Homo sapiens: one gene and its partner. The protein of the gene in region 2 binds, or shares a complex with, the protein of the main gene of each other region. Each region holds a gene or a part of one and is shown on either strand. Other genes may lie near its edges.

Evidence for each region.
Region 1: the proteins of TJP1 (region 2) and GJC1 are in contact, whole or in part, in a crystal structure (PDB 3SHW), measured with the Homo sapiens proteins. Residues at the interface, in NP_003248.3 of Homo sapiens: Lys429, Ser432, Val433, Gly434, Leu435, Arg436, Leu437, Gly449, Val450, Leu451, Val484, Leu487, Leu488, Leu549, Asn551, Gly552, Lys553; in NP_001073852.1 of Homo sapiens: Lys391, Thr392, Ser393, Val394, Trp395, Ile396.

What each region holds. Positions count from the first base shown.
Region 1 is NC_000017.11:44,827,087-44,835,271, forward strand, and holds the start of GJC1 (gap junction gamma-1 protein), read right to left. Parts: upstream 3,202-8,185; 5' UTR 2,976-3,201; intron 2,739-2,975; exon of another isoform or gene 2,426-2,738; intron 1-2,425. UniProt on the Homo sapiens protein: One gap junction consists of a cluster of closely packed pairs of transmembrane channels, the connexons, through which materials of low MW diffuse from one cell to a neighboring cell.
Region 2 is NC_000015.10:29,700,224-29,707,491, forward strand, and holds part of TJP1 (tight junction protein 1), read right to left. Parts: intron 5,523-7,268; coding exon 5,305-5,522; intron 4,083-5,304; coding exon 3,939-4,082; intron 1,467-3,938; coding exon 1,372-1,466; 3' UTR 1-1,371. UniProt on the Homo sapiens protein: TJP1, TJP2, and TJP3 are closely related scaffolding proteins that link tight junction (TJ) transmembrane proteins such as claudins, junctional adhesion molecules, and occludin to the actin cytoskeleton.

The DNA of each region.
Region 1 (8,185 bases), on a different chromosome or scaffold from region 2:
ATCACCTAATGTCAAGAGTTGGAGACCAGCCTGACCAACATGGTGAAACCCCGTCTCTACTAAAAAATACAAAATTAGCTGGGCATGGTGGGGCATTCCTGTAATCCCAGCTACTTGGGAGGCTGAGGCATGAGAATCACTTGAACTCGGGAGGCGGAGGTTGCAGTGAGACAAGATAGCACCGTTGCAGTGAGACAAGATAGCACCATTGCACTCCAGCCTGGGCAATAAGAGCTAAACTCCGTCTCAAAAACAAACAAACAAAAAAAAAAAATTCCTGCTTTTTCTTTGCCTAAATTTTTATCAAATATTTTGAACAGAAGCCACATGTATTTCTACACTACAAGAAAAGCATAAGTTCAGAAATAAGTAATCATACCCCCTAGTCAAACTTAACTATAGGAAGGAAGGACAGGACAGGACAGGAAAGGAGGAGAAAAAAGAAATTAGCTGGGTATACTCAGGAGGCTGAGGCAGGAGGATGGCTTGAGCCCAGGAATTTGAGGCTGCAGTGTACTATGACAGCCTGGGCATCATAGCAATGTCTTTGAAAAAAAAAAGGATGGCCGGGCACGGTGGCTCACGCCTGTAATCCCAGCACTCTGGGAGGCCGAGGCGGGAGGATCACAAGGTCAGGAGATCGGGACCATCATGGCTAACATGGTGAAACCCCATCTCTGCTAAAACTACAAAAAAAAATTAGCCAGGCGTGGTGGCGGGTACCTGTAGTCCCAGCCACTGCACTCTAGCCTGGGCGACAGAGCAAGACTCCATCTCAAAAAAAAAAGGAAAAGGAAAAAGAAAAAAGAACACACCTCACCAATTTTGAAATGTGAACATACAACAAATAAAGCAATATTTTTTGGAACTCATCACTTTGCATTGAATTAGGCATGGAACAAACACTAAGCATTTGTTAAGAGAACGATGCTCTGGATTTAAATTATATATCCTGTATTCTAAGATCCTCATTACTCAATTGATAGGCAAGCCTGGACCTGGGGGGAAGTGGACTAATCAGAAACACAACCCTGCATTCCTTCCCTTTGGCTGACTTATACAAATATAAGAATAAAATTTAATTGACAAAGGATAACAGCATTTATAAGTAAGATTGTTATGCTGGAGATATGTTAATTAAGTCCTCTGGATTAAAGGCTAAAACTCAATTTTACCTGCATGAATTGATTACAGAGAAAATTACCAGGTCCTTTGCTCCTTTTTAAGAGAACTGTGGTAGAACTTTTTAAGAGAACTGTTTCTGGTAGAAAACAATTCTTAAGTCACACAACCTCAAAAGTTAAAAGTGCTGGCTTTTGAAGAGGTTGTTTGAAATGCTTTGGAAAAATGCACAACAGTTTAAGTAGTAAATAATATTAAGCCATTACAAATCAGGACAAATATTAACAGACCTTCCATACAACTTCTATGTATCTCTTCAATATGCCCTTTGCCTACAGCACTCTGGGCACAAAAATCTGGGGAAAACTAAGATCTGTTTATTGGAGCTTTTTACCTTCTACCCAGAAAAGTTAGTTCGTGTTTAATTCTGACATTACACAGTACTTAAGACATTCAAAGCAACTGCAGTGATACAACTCTATGCTAAGTTTTTTTTAAATCAGTAAACTTAACCCACAACTCACAATATTTTAATCAGGAGCTCTGGAAGTAAGGGTATTTTTCTGTTTTTTTCCATACCCTCTGAGGTTGAAATTTTTTTGCTCTTTTACTCTGAATAATACCTAAACCCTCTCTAGGGAGAGAAATATTTTATTCCTAAATGACATTATTAACGCATTTTTCTACAGATATTAAAGTACTGGAGATATGCTGTTTCCTGCTTATCAGGAAATTAAAATCCCTTTCATTTATGTAGTTTGATTTTTTATAGCGCTTTCACATATATTCACTTGAACGTATACACGACACAAACATATAACAAATTTAGACTTATCAGGCATACAAGATGACCCTCAGCCTGAACTTATTCAAACTTAACTTACTCGATTTCACATCGTCTTGATGCTAACAAAATTAAGCATGAGCATAATGAAATCGGTATCACTGCCAGTTCTCAATGAACAAAAAGAAAACCAAATTCGCCCATTTCGCAAAGGAAAAGTACTCCCAATCAGACAATCGCAAAAAAAAGAACAAAATCTAAACCATACATTCACGTACATCTTTTCAACTCAGAGCTCCAAACGCAGCCGCCAACCACACAACTGCCCACAATCACAGCGGTAGCGCCTACTCTTAATTTTGAAGCTAGAGACTTAAGGAAACACACACACACACAAAACAGTTCTCAAGTTTGACAAAGTGGGGGAAAAGTCATTTTAAGTAAAGACAACGAGTTAATCAGGAGGCGATGAGCCCAGTCCTTCCGCCCCGCTTTCCCGCTTCCAGCCCTCGAACGAACCCTCCTCTAACCCCCGGGAGGCAGGAGTTCCAGCGGGGAGATGCGGGAAGCCTCAGACGAGCCCGCACGCCGCCGGAGACGCAGGGATCGAGGTCGGGGAGACAAAGAGCAGCCCGCGAAGAGCCCGGGCGGCGAGGGGCGGCCCGGCTCCGCCCTGCGCCCCTAACCGCCCGGGTAGTTGTCGGCACCGCCGGGGCGCCGCCGAGTGCGCGCCGCTTCTGTCCGGGCTCCCCGACCGTCGCCCGACACCTCCGCGGCCCAGGACACCCCCGAGCCGTTTCCCTCCCGATTTGGGAGCCGCGCGCCTGGGGACAAAGAGGGAGGGTGCGCCGGGGACAGTGGCAGGACGCGGGCCGGCGACGCCCCTCCGGACTCGGCGGGAACCCCTCGGCGGCGCCCCCCTCCTTCTCCCGCTCTGGCCGCGCTCCTCCCCGGACCTCCGGAGGTTCTCCTCGGCCCCTCCCCGGGCTCCCCAAGAGTTCTCCCGCCTCCCCCTGGGACCCCGCCCCTGGCCCGCTTCTCCTCAGCCGGCCCTGCGGCCGCCCCTCACCCGGCGGCGGGTTCCCCCGGAGCCGCCTCCTCCGCCGGGCCTCGGCCCGTCCCGCCGGTCGCGGCCTCATGTGCCCCGCGTCGCCATCGCCTTCACCCTCGCCTCTCCTCCACCTCCTCCGCCGCTGCCGCCTTCGCCTCAGTCTCCAGCCGAGGCAGAAGCCGCTCCCGCCGCTGCCGCCGCCGCCGCCGCCTCCCGCTCCCGCCGCCGCGACCCGCGGGAAGGCGCCTGCGCACTGCGCGCTGCGGTGGGGGCGGGGGCGTCCCGCCGCGGCCCGGGAGCGGGGGGCGCGCGGCACGTGGCGCTCGAGTGGGAGGGGGGCGCCCCAGAACGCGCGGGAAGCGACGCGAGCGCCAACTTTCCGCGGTCGAGTCCTCGCCGCTCTCTCGGATAGTCCGGGACGCGGCGGAGGCGCGGCGCGCGTGGGAGTCACCCGCGTGGAGTCTGGACCCCGGGTGGGCGCAGACTTCGCTCCGGACAGTTCATTCTTCCAAGCTGATTTTCGGGCGAGAGTCCCCCGCCAGCCGCGCCTCAGTTTGAGCGGGCCGCTAACGGCGCCGTGGGTTCTCGCCTTACCTGGGTATCCTGGGTTGGTTTAGCGGGCCCAGAGTTGTCTTCTGCGCGCTCCGCCGAGGCCTTGGTCCATTGTAGCACGGGATGCTAATGTCTCCTCCCAGGTTCTGCTCTACAATTCCTCGAGGATCTGGCGGGCCCTGCGTGGATCTAGCTAGAGTCGGGGCTCTTAGCAGTGCTCTAGATACTTTTCAGGTCCTGAACTTCTCGGATTAGCAAGACCCTAATAGGCTATTTCCTCTTAACTCTTTGCATCCCAGCAGGATCCCATTCAGAGGACTTGGGAAAAATTTTCATGCATAGGAATCCCCAGTTTTAAAATGCCCAGTAGGAAACCGAAAATTCTCCAAATGCTTTAAGTAGAGTAAGACTTTGGGTAATAAAGGAAGGCTCAGTAAAGAGATGGGCGACCTCTGGAATGATCTCATCTGAGCATCAGAATGCCGATGGACAGGCTTTTATTATTTTGCCCTTTTGACCAGAGGGGAAATTAAGCGCTAACAAGTGAGGTTACTTGCTGCAAGTCAAACTCCCCCACCCAAAGCCAAGCCCTAAGGGGTAGCCCCAGAGTGGAAATCTTGAAGGCTAGGCATCTAATGCACTGACCAGTTTTGTGTGGCCAGTATGTTTTCCAAAAATATGAATTAGTTACCAAAATATTAAAATCCAGATTTCTGGCCTCCCTAAAAAGTCAAAAGCTGCTTACTTTGAGCTTCTCTTTTCACATGGCAGCTCCTCTTGAGTCACCTTGTCCGGGTAGGCAATGTCCCCACTCAGCTGCTTAAATCATTTCATGACCTGCTTGGCCTCGGAGCATTTAAGTACTTCTCCCTGTGATTGCTGTAGTCTGTCCCCACGCCTTATCACATTGCCTCTCTACAGATGTATTTAAAATGACAAGTGTGGGATGGGCGCGGTGGCTCACGCCTGTAATTCCAGCACTTTGGGAGGCCTAGGCAGGCGGATTGCTTGAGCCCTGGGGTTCCAGACCAGCCTGGACAATATGGCAAAACCCCCATCTCTACAAAAAATACAAAAATTAGCCGGGTGTGGTGACGCGCACCTGTGATCCTAGCTACTCCAAGCATGAGGTGGGAGGATCGCTTGAGCCCGGGAGGTCAAGGCTGCAGTAAGCTGAGATAGCGCCACTGCACTCCAGCCTGAGCGACAGAGTGAGACCCTGTCTCAAAAAAATAAGTGAAAAAAATAAAATGACCAGGGTGAAAACTCTGAAAATACCTGGAAATAATAAATAGCATGTAACTAAAATAACACAGGAAACAACATCATTGTACCTGTTGAATAAAATATTAAAATTCTCACAGCCTGCAACTGTAAACTAGTACAAATAACTTTTTTGTTTTGTTTTGTTTTGAGGGAGAGTCTCACTCTGTCGCCAGGCTGGAGTGCAGTGGGCGCCATCTAGGCTCACTGCAAGCTCCACCTCCCCGGTTCAAGCAATTCTCCTGCCTCAGCCTCCCGAGTAGCTGGGACTACAGGCGCACGCAACCACGCCCAACTAATTTTTGTATTTTTAGTAGAGACAGGGTTTCACCATGTTGGCCAGGATGGTCTCGATCTCCTGACCTTGTGATCCGCCTGCCTCGGCCTCCCAAAGTGCTGGGATTACAGGCATGAGCCACCGTGCCTGGCCTAAATCACTTTGTTGTTGTTTTTGCAACAGAGTCTCACTCTGTCGCCCACGCTGGAGTGCAGTGGGGTGATCTCGGCTCACTGCGATGTCCGCCTCCCAGGTTCAAAAGATTCTACTACCTCAGCCTCCGGAGTAGCTGGGAATACAGGTGCCCGCCATCATGCCTGGCTAATTTTTGTATTTTTAGTAGAAAGGGGGTTTCACCATGTTGGCCAGGCTGGTCTCAAATCCTGACCTCAAGTGATCTGCCCGCCTTGGCCTCCCAAAGAGCTGGGATTACAGACATGAGCCACCGTGCCCAGCGGACTTTGCAAAACTGGCAATATCTACTGTTGAGGCTCAGAAAATGATTTCCCAGGGCGTGGTGGCTGTAGTCCCAGCTACTCAGGAAACTGCAGTGGGCTATGATTATGCCACTACACTCCAGCCTGGAAGACAGAGCGAGACCCCATCTCTTTAAAAAAGAAAGAAAGAAAACAATATCCCAAAGTATGGAGCTTTGGCGTGCTGAGTGCTTTGAACTAAAGGAGATTGGAAGGCCTCAGAAGCAAAGTCTCTCTCTGACCTTCTCCTGCCCTCCTGTCTCCCGCCCCTTTCTCCCCTGAAGCGAGTCATAGAAATAAAAATTCCTCTTCCCCAAGGCGGGTCATAGAAACTAGAACCCCTCTCCCCCAAAGCAAGCCATAAAACCAGAAAGGTCACTCTCCCCCTTCTCTCCTCCCCCTTGAAGACCCTCATTCCAGAGGAACCAGGAAGGAATACCCTGGAGGAAGGAATGTTACACTGGGAAGCCAAGAAGAATTTGAACCGACAAGCCTTGTTGGGTTCCCCGCTCAGTCTGTTAAATTAGATCATACCCCTTTTGTCTGATCACATTCTGCTTGTCCATTCTGCATTGAACCTAAGCATAAAAACAATTGTTCTAGGGTATTGAGGGTGTGTGTGTGTGTGTGTGTGTGTGTGTGTGAGAGAGAGAGAGAGAGAGACCGGGTCTCTCTCCATCACCCAGGCTGGAGTGCAGTGGCATGATCTCGGCTCACTGCAACCTCCGCCTCCCAGGTTCAACTGATTCTCATGCCTCAGCCTCCCAAGCAGCTGGGACTACAGGCGCACACCACCACGCCCGGCTAATTTTTTTTGTATTTTTAGTAGAGACTGGTTTTCACTATGTTGGTGAGGCTGGTCTTGAACTCCTGACCTCGTGATCCACCCGCCTAGGCCTCCCAAAGTGCTGGGATTACAGGTGTGAGCCACCGCACTCGGCCCTTTGAGGTCTTAATTTCCGAAGTCTCTTGTGTTACATAAAACTTTGGTTAAATAACTTGGTTATGCCCTTCTCTTGTTAATCTGGGTTTTGTTATAGGAGTGTCAGCTGTGATCCTTATGATGGATGAGGAAAGGTGTCACACCTTTCCGCCACTACACTACTAAAGCTGAACCTATGAATACACTATGCCTTTGGAATTCCATGGCAATTCCACGAAAATGTGTACAAATGTTCACCAAAATACTTGTACTAGAGTATTCATAGCAGCACTATTTATAATAAGTCAAAAAACTAGAAACTACCCAAAATGCCTGTCAACCGTAGAATGGCTAAATTGTGTTACGTACATTATGCTGCAATGAAAATGAACAATCTACATTTACACATAAGATGGATCTCACAAAAGTTTTCATTTACAAAAACTTCAAAAACAGACAAAACTGGCCAGGTGCTGTGGCTCATGCCTGTTATCCCAGCGCTTAGGGAGGCCAAGGTGGGCGGATCACTTGAGCTCAGTAGTTCAAGACCAGCCTTAGCAACATGGCAAAACCTTACCTCTACAAAAAATACAAAAATTAGCCAGGCATGGTTGCATGTGCCTGGAGTCTCAGCTACTCCAGAGGCTGAGGTGGTGAGGTGGGAAGATCACTTGAGCTGGGGAAGTTGAGGCTGCAGTGAGCTGTGATTGTGCCACTGAACCACTGCACCACTGCACTCCAGCCTGGGTTACAGAGCAAGACCGCGTTTAAAAAAAAACAAAACAACAACAACAAAAAAAAAAAACAAGCAAAACTAATCCATGCCGTTAGAAGTAGGGACAGTTGGCCAGGCGCGGTGGCTCACGCCTGTAATCCCAGCACTCTGGGAGGCCGAGGGGAGCAGATCACCTAAGGTCAGGAGTTCAAGACCAGCCTGGCTAACATGGTGAAAACCCATTTCTACTAAAAATACAAAAAATTAGATGGGTGTGGTGGCGCATGCCTGTAATCCCAGCTACTCAGGAGGCTGAGGCAGGAGAATTGCTTGAACCTGGGAGGCAGAGGTTGCAGTGAGCTGAGATCATGCCATTGCACTGCAGCTTGGGGCAACAAGAGCAAAACTCAAAAAAAAAAAAAAAAGAAGTAGTAAGGTGCAGTGGCTCACGCCTGTAATCCCAGCACTAAACCCCGTCTCTACTAAAAATACAAAAATTAGCTGGGCGTGGTGGCGCATGCCTGTAATCCCAGCTACTCCGGAGGCTGAGACGAGAATTGCTTGAACCAGGGAGTTGGAGGTTACAGTGAGTGGAGATTGTGCCACTGCACTCCAGCCTGGGTATAGAGCAAGGCTCCGTCTCAAAAAAAGAAGAAGTAAGGCCAGTGGGCTGGGCACAGTGGCTCACGCCTATGATCCCAGCACTTTGGGAGGGTGAGGCAGGTGGATCACCTGAGGTCAGAAGTTTGAGACCAGCCTGGCTAACATGGTGAAACCCCATTTCTACTAAAAATACAAAAAATTAGCTGGGCGTGGTGGTGTGAGCCTGTAATCCCTGCTACTTGGGAGGCTGAGTTGGAGGTTGCAGTGAGCCGAGATTGCGCCACTGCACTCCAGCCTGGGGACAGAGCAAGACTTGGTCTCAAAAAAAAAATTAGAAGGATAGTGGGCTGGGCACAGTGCCTCACACCTGTAATCCCAGCATTTTGGGAGGATGAGGCAGGTGGATCACCTGAGGTCAGG
Region 2 (7,268 bases):
ACACCTAATGATTAACAGAATGTAGTGGTGTATTATCTAAACAGAAATCGTGCTGATGTGCCATAATAAATTGTCTATTAGTAAAAAAATACACTTTAGGGCACAGCATTGTATCACAAATTACAGTAGGGATACTTTGCAAGAATTTAATCAAACTAGAGAATTCTGAGTAACTGTATCTTTTAAATGCAGCACTTAAAAATGTAACAACTCTGTGCATCCTTTTTCTTAAAAAAAATGACCTTGCATGTGTCATAGAAACGCTGCTTTATTGCTGCAGAGGTCAAAGTTCAAGGCTCAAGAGGTACAGGAGAGAATACAAAGGTAGCCTTTAGAAACGTGGTCTTGTTTATGTATAAAAAAGGTAAAGTTTATAAAAGTTAATTTACAAACCAAGAACAAAAGTGGTATGCACGCATTATGTACAAGCATCCTTAAAACATCAAAATTTTCAAATGCATAGCCAGAAAGAACAGAAAACCACCACTGCCCCTTGTCAAAAAAAAAAAAAAAGAAAAGAAAAGAAAAGAAAAAAATATCCCCAAATCACACCACTATTTTCTTCTGGGTGATAACACATTTCTGAAACCACCAAATGCACAACGTACTCAGTCTTTGTCATGATACAGTATCTAGATAATGCACAAAAGCCATAAAAACTTAGTAACACAAGGAGAATGAGCTAAGAATTAAGAACATGAGGGTAAGGCATTTCTGCTGGTTAGTATGTCTGTGGTAATATGGTGAAGTTAGAGATCTGAAGAGGCCATGGAACCAGTCTCACATGCTTTTGTATCCTTCCCTAAGAAAAATGTGTTTTCATGTACAGTAAGTCATTGTCTTCACTTCACCCTCCCCCAGTTGTAAATCTCCTTGCTGTACATTTCTGTTAAATCCACAACACTGGTTATATATTCCAGGTGCATTTAAAAAATGTGTGCATATTACTTCATGCATAATAAAATAAAATGTGTACGTATGCTAGGCCAGGGCCATAGTAAAGTTTGAAACAGTGTACTTTGGAAAGAACAGACCTCAAATGCACCCCCATTTACTGGCTGGTATTTTAACGGAAATCAATATGTGAAGTTAAGCAGTGACGATAAAAAAATTACAAAAATCACAAAGCAAAATATCTTTGAACCTCTAGCCAATACCAACAGTCCCGTCAATCACAAACATGCAGTGTGTAGCATGTTTTCCGACCATGGTTCAGGGGCATGCTCACTCATCTTTATCAGTTCAAACAAATGCCTCATACTAACAAACTGTAGTATCAACTCTAAAAAAGGTATAATACTTGATAGAGTGGTTCCATTTAGATTAAGTTTAATCCAGTTTCACATTATTTAAGTTCCTATATTTCAAGAGTTAAAAGTGGTCAATAAGGACAGAAACACAGTTTGCTCCAACGAGATAATTTGGATCTCCGGGAAGACACTTGTTTTGCCAGGTTTTAGGATCACCTATGAGAGAAAAGAAGTTGATGTCATTTACAGTTCAGTAAACTGCTATCCGTAATGCTTTGCAATTATAGGGCAAATACGTATATTTAGACATAATTTTCTTCTGTTTCTTCAGCATATTGAATTTGTATCAAAACACATTGCTGTATTTCAAAGCAGATCTGCTGGCATCTAACAATTCCAAAGGTGTTTCACACTTCTAAAAAAATTTTTTTTAAAACGTTCTTTCTAACTCACACCATTAAGAACAGTTTTTTGTTTTTTGTTTTTAATTTTCAGACTTCTCCTTTATTACATTATCAAGTGCATTGGCCTTTTCAAAAAATGAATACAAGTGAGTGATGGCAATCTTATGCCTGGGACAGTCCCAGTTTGCCAGAGCCCACATAATTATCAGTAGCACTTTTTTTTTTTTTCCAGTTTCGAAAGTCTGGAGGATAATTATGTGATCACCTATTTGAGCTGAGAATGAGGACACATTTCTCACACTCAACTATAAACCAACAAATGAAGCCCAGTTCTGCAGAATCTAGTTCTTGAAGACTGTCTTCCCCCTTACAAAAAACAAGCAAAAAAACGAGACTGCACCAGAGCTGCTCAGCTCTGATTCCAGCTGGACAACAAAATTAATCATGCAGCTTCAAAAACTCATTGACTGGGTGTTAGTTAGGTCTCAGGATTTAAGTTTTTAATAAGCTCTTGGTGATTTCTATTAGATGTGAAGGCAGGGACGACTATATGTCTCTGTGGTGTCCAAGCAAGCTGAGAGTCACAGCTGTGGACGTTTGCTTCCCTTACAGAAGTAGCTCTCAAACAGGAATGACCCTGCCCCTGATGGGACATCTGGAGACAGTTTTGCTTGTTACCACTGGCATCTAGGGGTAGAGGCCCAGGGAAGCTGCTAAATATTCCACGACGAACAGGAGGGCCCTACAACAATCATTTGGCCAAAATGTCAACAGTGCCAGCTGAGAACTTTGCTTACAGTACGTTAGACATTACCTAAGCAATATCTGGAGCCAAAAGCATTTCATTTTTCCAGAAAATGGGGTACTTGTAAATATGAGGAAATATGTATTTACATGTAATTTTTTCCTCTGATAACATTAAAATATGCTCTTGCTATAATCTTTAGACCACAAACTTTTATTTCATACTGTACCAAACTAAAACTAAATAATGCTCATCTGATTTATCAAAGATTTGGAAGCTAGACTTTAAATCAGGTTCGCTTAAAGTGATCTACACCCAAAATAAAATTCTAATTATTAACTGACTTAAGTCACTCAAGGAAGTGAGAAATGTGAAAATGCAGTGGAAGCTTTGAAATTATCTCAGGAGAAAAAGTCATTTACAAATAGTGTATAAAAGAAGTAATTTAGAGTATTACACTGAAAAACCATGGCCAAGTATGATCACAACGGAAGATCTTGTTAAGTTTCTCTGGTATACATACGTTGTAGATTAAGAAATTAAACAGGCCAGGCACGGTGGCTCACACCTGTAATCCCAGCACTCTGGGAGGCCGAGGCGGGTGGATCACTTTAAGTCAGGAGTTCGAACCAGCCTGGCCAACATGGTGAAACCCCGTCTCTACTAAAAGTACAAAAATTAGCCAGGCATGGTGGTGGGCACCTGTAATCGAGGCTGAGGCAGGAGAATCGCTTGAAGCTGGGAGGCGAAGGTTGCAGTGAGCTGAGATCGTGCCACCGCATTCCAGCCTGGGCGACAGAGCGAGACTCCACCTCAAAAAACCAAATCAAAACAAACAAACAAAAAATAAATTAAACAATAGTAACCAAAAATAGAAATAGTTATATAAAGGAACAAAGTCATTTTAATAAGGTAAAAATGCCTATTTGTGCAGGACAATATCTCCCACTGCATCCTGAAAAATTTGACAGAATAAATCATTTTTCTGAACACCAAGAAATAGTCAATATTTGGCCATATTATCAAAAAAAAATTTTTTTGAGACGGTCTCGCTCTGTTGCCCAGGCTGGAGTGCAGTGGCACGATCTTGGCTCACTGCAATCTCCGCCTCCCTGGCTCAAGCAATTCTCCTGCCTCAGCCTCCCGAGTAGCTGGGATTACAGGTGTGTGCCACCACGCCTGGCTAATTTTTGTATTTTTAGTAGAGATGGGGTTTCACCATGTTGGTCAGGCTGGTCTTGAACTCCTGACCTCAGGTAATCCACTTGCCTCAGCCTCCCAAAGTGCTGCGATTACAGGCATGAGCCACGGCGCCCGGCCCAAATTATCAATTTTTAAAAGGCAGAAAGTCTTCTACCTTTCCATATTTATTTACAATATATGCACCACAAATAAATGTGAAAACACTGGTGATGCCTACAAGGCCACAGGAACAGAGATAGAGATTTGCTAACACACAGCATGGGCAGCATCATCAGCCCAGGTATTAATCAACGACAGTCCCCAAAGCTCCCAAAGGACAGAGTGAAGACAGCATACCCGACGAGGAGTCGGATGATTTTAGAGCAAAAGACCAACCGTCAGGAGTCATGGACGCACAGTGTGGTAAGCGCAGCTCCACAGGCTTCAGGAACTTGAGGCCATGGGGACCACACATCACCAAAGGACTCAGCAGTGTTTCACCTGGAGTTGGAAAAGGGGATAGGCAGAGAGGATGGATGTGGTCTTTCTTCTAGAATCCCAGTTTTCCTCACCCTGCTTCTAATTATATGCTTGAAAGCCTAATGGAGTTAGTTCTCTACAGTCGCACTGACCACAAAAAAACGTAACAGCAGCCACATATGGAATCTTAAATTTCCCAGTAGCCACGTTAGAAAGTAAAAAGAAACAAGTGATATCAAATCTTACAATATTTTAATATTTTAACTCAATATAACGAAAACACTGTTATTTCAACATGTAATCAATATATGAAATCTTTGGAACTTGGTGTGTATTTCACATTTCCAGCATCTTTCAATCCCAAATTGTCACACTTCAAGTGCTAGCTAGCCACGTGCAGGCAGTGGCTACTGCATTCAATCATATGGGTCTATAATAAAAAACATATTCAAATGTGCTTGTTGCGAATGTGATATATTTTCCATTTTCAAAATGTTTTGTTTGCTCCATAGGTGGTTAAAGAGATTCATGCAGGGCCAACACAGTCAGTCCTACTGGTTTTTAAAACAGGATATCCCCAAAATCAGAGTACAGAATCAGATGTCAGTATTCCGGCAAAATACAAAAAAGCGAACTAAATTTGTTTAGGAAGTAAAAGCACTGCTAAAAGATGCTAAATCACAACACACTTCGTTATAATATCCTGGTAGATCCAGGAGGATTATGAAAATAAGTTTCCTTAAGAAGCTCAGAAACATGCTGTCATCTCCTCTGAGACTCCTTCATGCACTCTGCTGAGCATGTACTAGTGCTAGGTTCTGGGGTGATGAATAAGACAGTACCTGTCAAGAGGTTTAGGTTCTCCAATCAGGTGAAGGCACAGCAAAGCCTTTCTGAGTGGGTGTTACCTAACCCATCTCCAGAGACGCAAAGGCTGACTGATTCAAAGACAAATTTGGTTAGGTCAGCCTAGGCTGCTCAGCAGGTGAGACATCCCGTGGCCTGTCCTATGCCATCATTTTTTATTTCACACCAAAAGTAAAAGCAGGCAGTGTGGTCACCACAGCCTTGCTTCAGGCCACCCACTGCTTGCTTGCAACACCGTCCCCAGGGCACCCCTCGCTACAGCACTCATCTGGAGATAGAGAGGTGCTGCATTATTAGCCAAGCACTATAAGCTCTGAAGTGCACACAGGGCAACTCTTAAGTTATCAAAACTAAGGAGAAAAATAAACACATTTACCTTTCTCTTTATCTAAAGGTGGAAGGATGCTGTTGTCCCGGCAGACCTTGAAATAGATTTCCTGCTCAACTCCTTCGGGAATGGCTCCTTGAGGGATAATTATACTAACACCAGTTTCTATGGAACTCAGCACGCCCCCATTGCTGTTAAATATGCCTCGGGCTGTGGCCACCACAGTATGACCATCTTCATCTTCATCCTCTTCCACAGCTGAAGGACTGAAAGTTCAGAAATGGCTAGTGAGTGAATTCCTAATAATACACAGGTGCTTTGCTTTTACTACTACTGTATTACGTGCTTTCACTTTTATTTCTCCATATAATCAAGAAGTTACTTTAACAAGATAAGTTTCTGGCAACAGATTTTACTGACAGGGTTATCGCAGAGAATATTATTTCTTTTTTGTTTGTTTGTTTGGTTTTGAGACAGAGTCTCACTCTGTCGCCCAGGCTGGAGTGCAGTGGCACAATCTTGGTTCACTGCAACCTCCATCTCCCAGGTTCAAGTGATTTTTCTGCCTCAGCCTCCCATGTAGCTGGGACTACAGGCGCACGCCACCAAGCCTGGCTAATTTTTGTATTTTTAGTAGAGATGGGGTTTCACCATATTGGCCGGGCTGGTCTCAAACTCCTGATCTCGTCGTGATCCACCTGCCTTGGTCTCCCAAAGTGCTGAGGTTACAGGCGTGAGCCACCGCGCCTGGCGAGAATATTATTTCTAGAGAAATTCCATTCTAGAAAATTTCAAAAATTCTAGAGAAATGTCAAAAATTCAATTTTTGAAGGCAATTAGTCAAACGACCTTCATTAATGAATTGCAACCTGAAAGTGTAAAATCTGATGCCTTGAACACCCAACTACAGGTGAAGCATCCCTAACCTGAAAATCTGAAATGCTCCAAAATCGGAAACTTTTTTTTGAGTGTCAAAATGAAGCTCAAAGGAAATGCTCATTGGAGCATTTTGGCAATATTCCAAAATCCAAAAAAACCCAAGATATGAGACACTTCAGAACCCAAGAAGTTTGGACAAGGGATACTAAACAGGTACAGAGTTTTATGAAGCACATTTTAAAATCCATGAAATTGGAACTTTAAAACTGGTAAGTCACAATTTAATTGGTAGCCCTGTTCTTCCCTTCCTGTTGTTTTTTGAAATGGAGTGTCTTGCTGTCACCCAGGCTAGAGTACAGCGGTGCAATCTTGGCTCACTGCAACCTCCACCTCCCAGGTTCAAGCAATTTTCCTGCCTCAGCTTCTGAGTAGCTAGGATTACAGGCGTCTGCCACCATGCCCGGCTAATTTTTGTATTTTTAGTAGACATGGGTTTTCACCGTGTTGGCCAGGATGGAACTCCTGACTTCCAGTGATCCGCCCGCCTCAACCTCCGAAAGTGCTGGGATTAGAGGCATGAGCCACCGTGCCTGGCTGTTCTTCCATTTTTAGTGACACAAAACAATGGTGCATCTCACGGCTGACAGCATCTCAGACTTGATAAAATCTCCCTAGGATTTTAAGTGTGCCTGAGTATGGTCCTGCCTCAGCATTCCCTGAGGACCAAGCGCCCGCTCTGGCTGTAGGAGGCAAGGCTTCCAAGGTTCCATGAGGCGAAGACCCTTGTATGGGCATATCCCAAACATCCACGAAAGAGAGACAGTAGATTAACTTAGTAATCACAGAACGCCAAAGGCAAAGGGGATGTGGTATCAATGACTGCTTCAAAAGTAGAGGCTATCAACTTCCTGAAAGTACAGTTTTGAGCCAGGGCTCAAAGGTGAGCAGAAAGACCAACGAAACAGAATTACATGAAGGTAGCTGCCGTTTCACTCCAGCATGACCGGAGTGCCAGGGACGACATCCTACGACACAACATCAAGGGAGCAGAGCGCAGCCTGAGCTGCAGAGCAGAGGCCAGCTCTGTCCGCCCCTGACCATCTGTGGATGTGCAGAGCTAGGAAGGCAGTGAC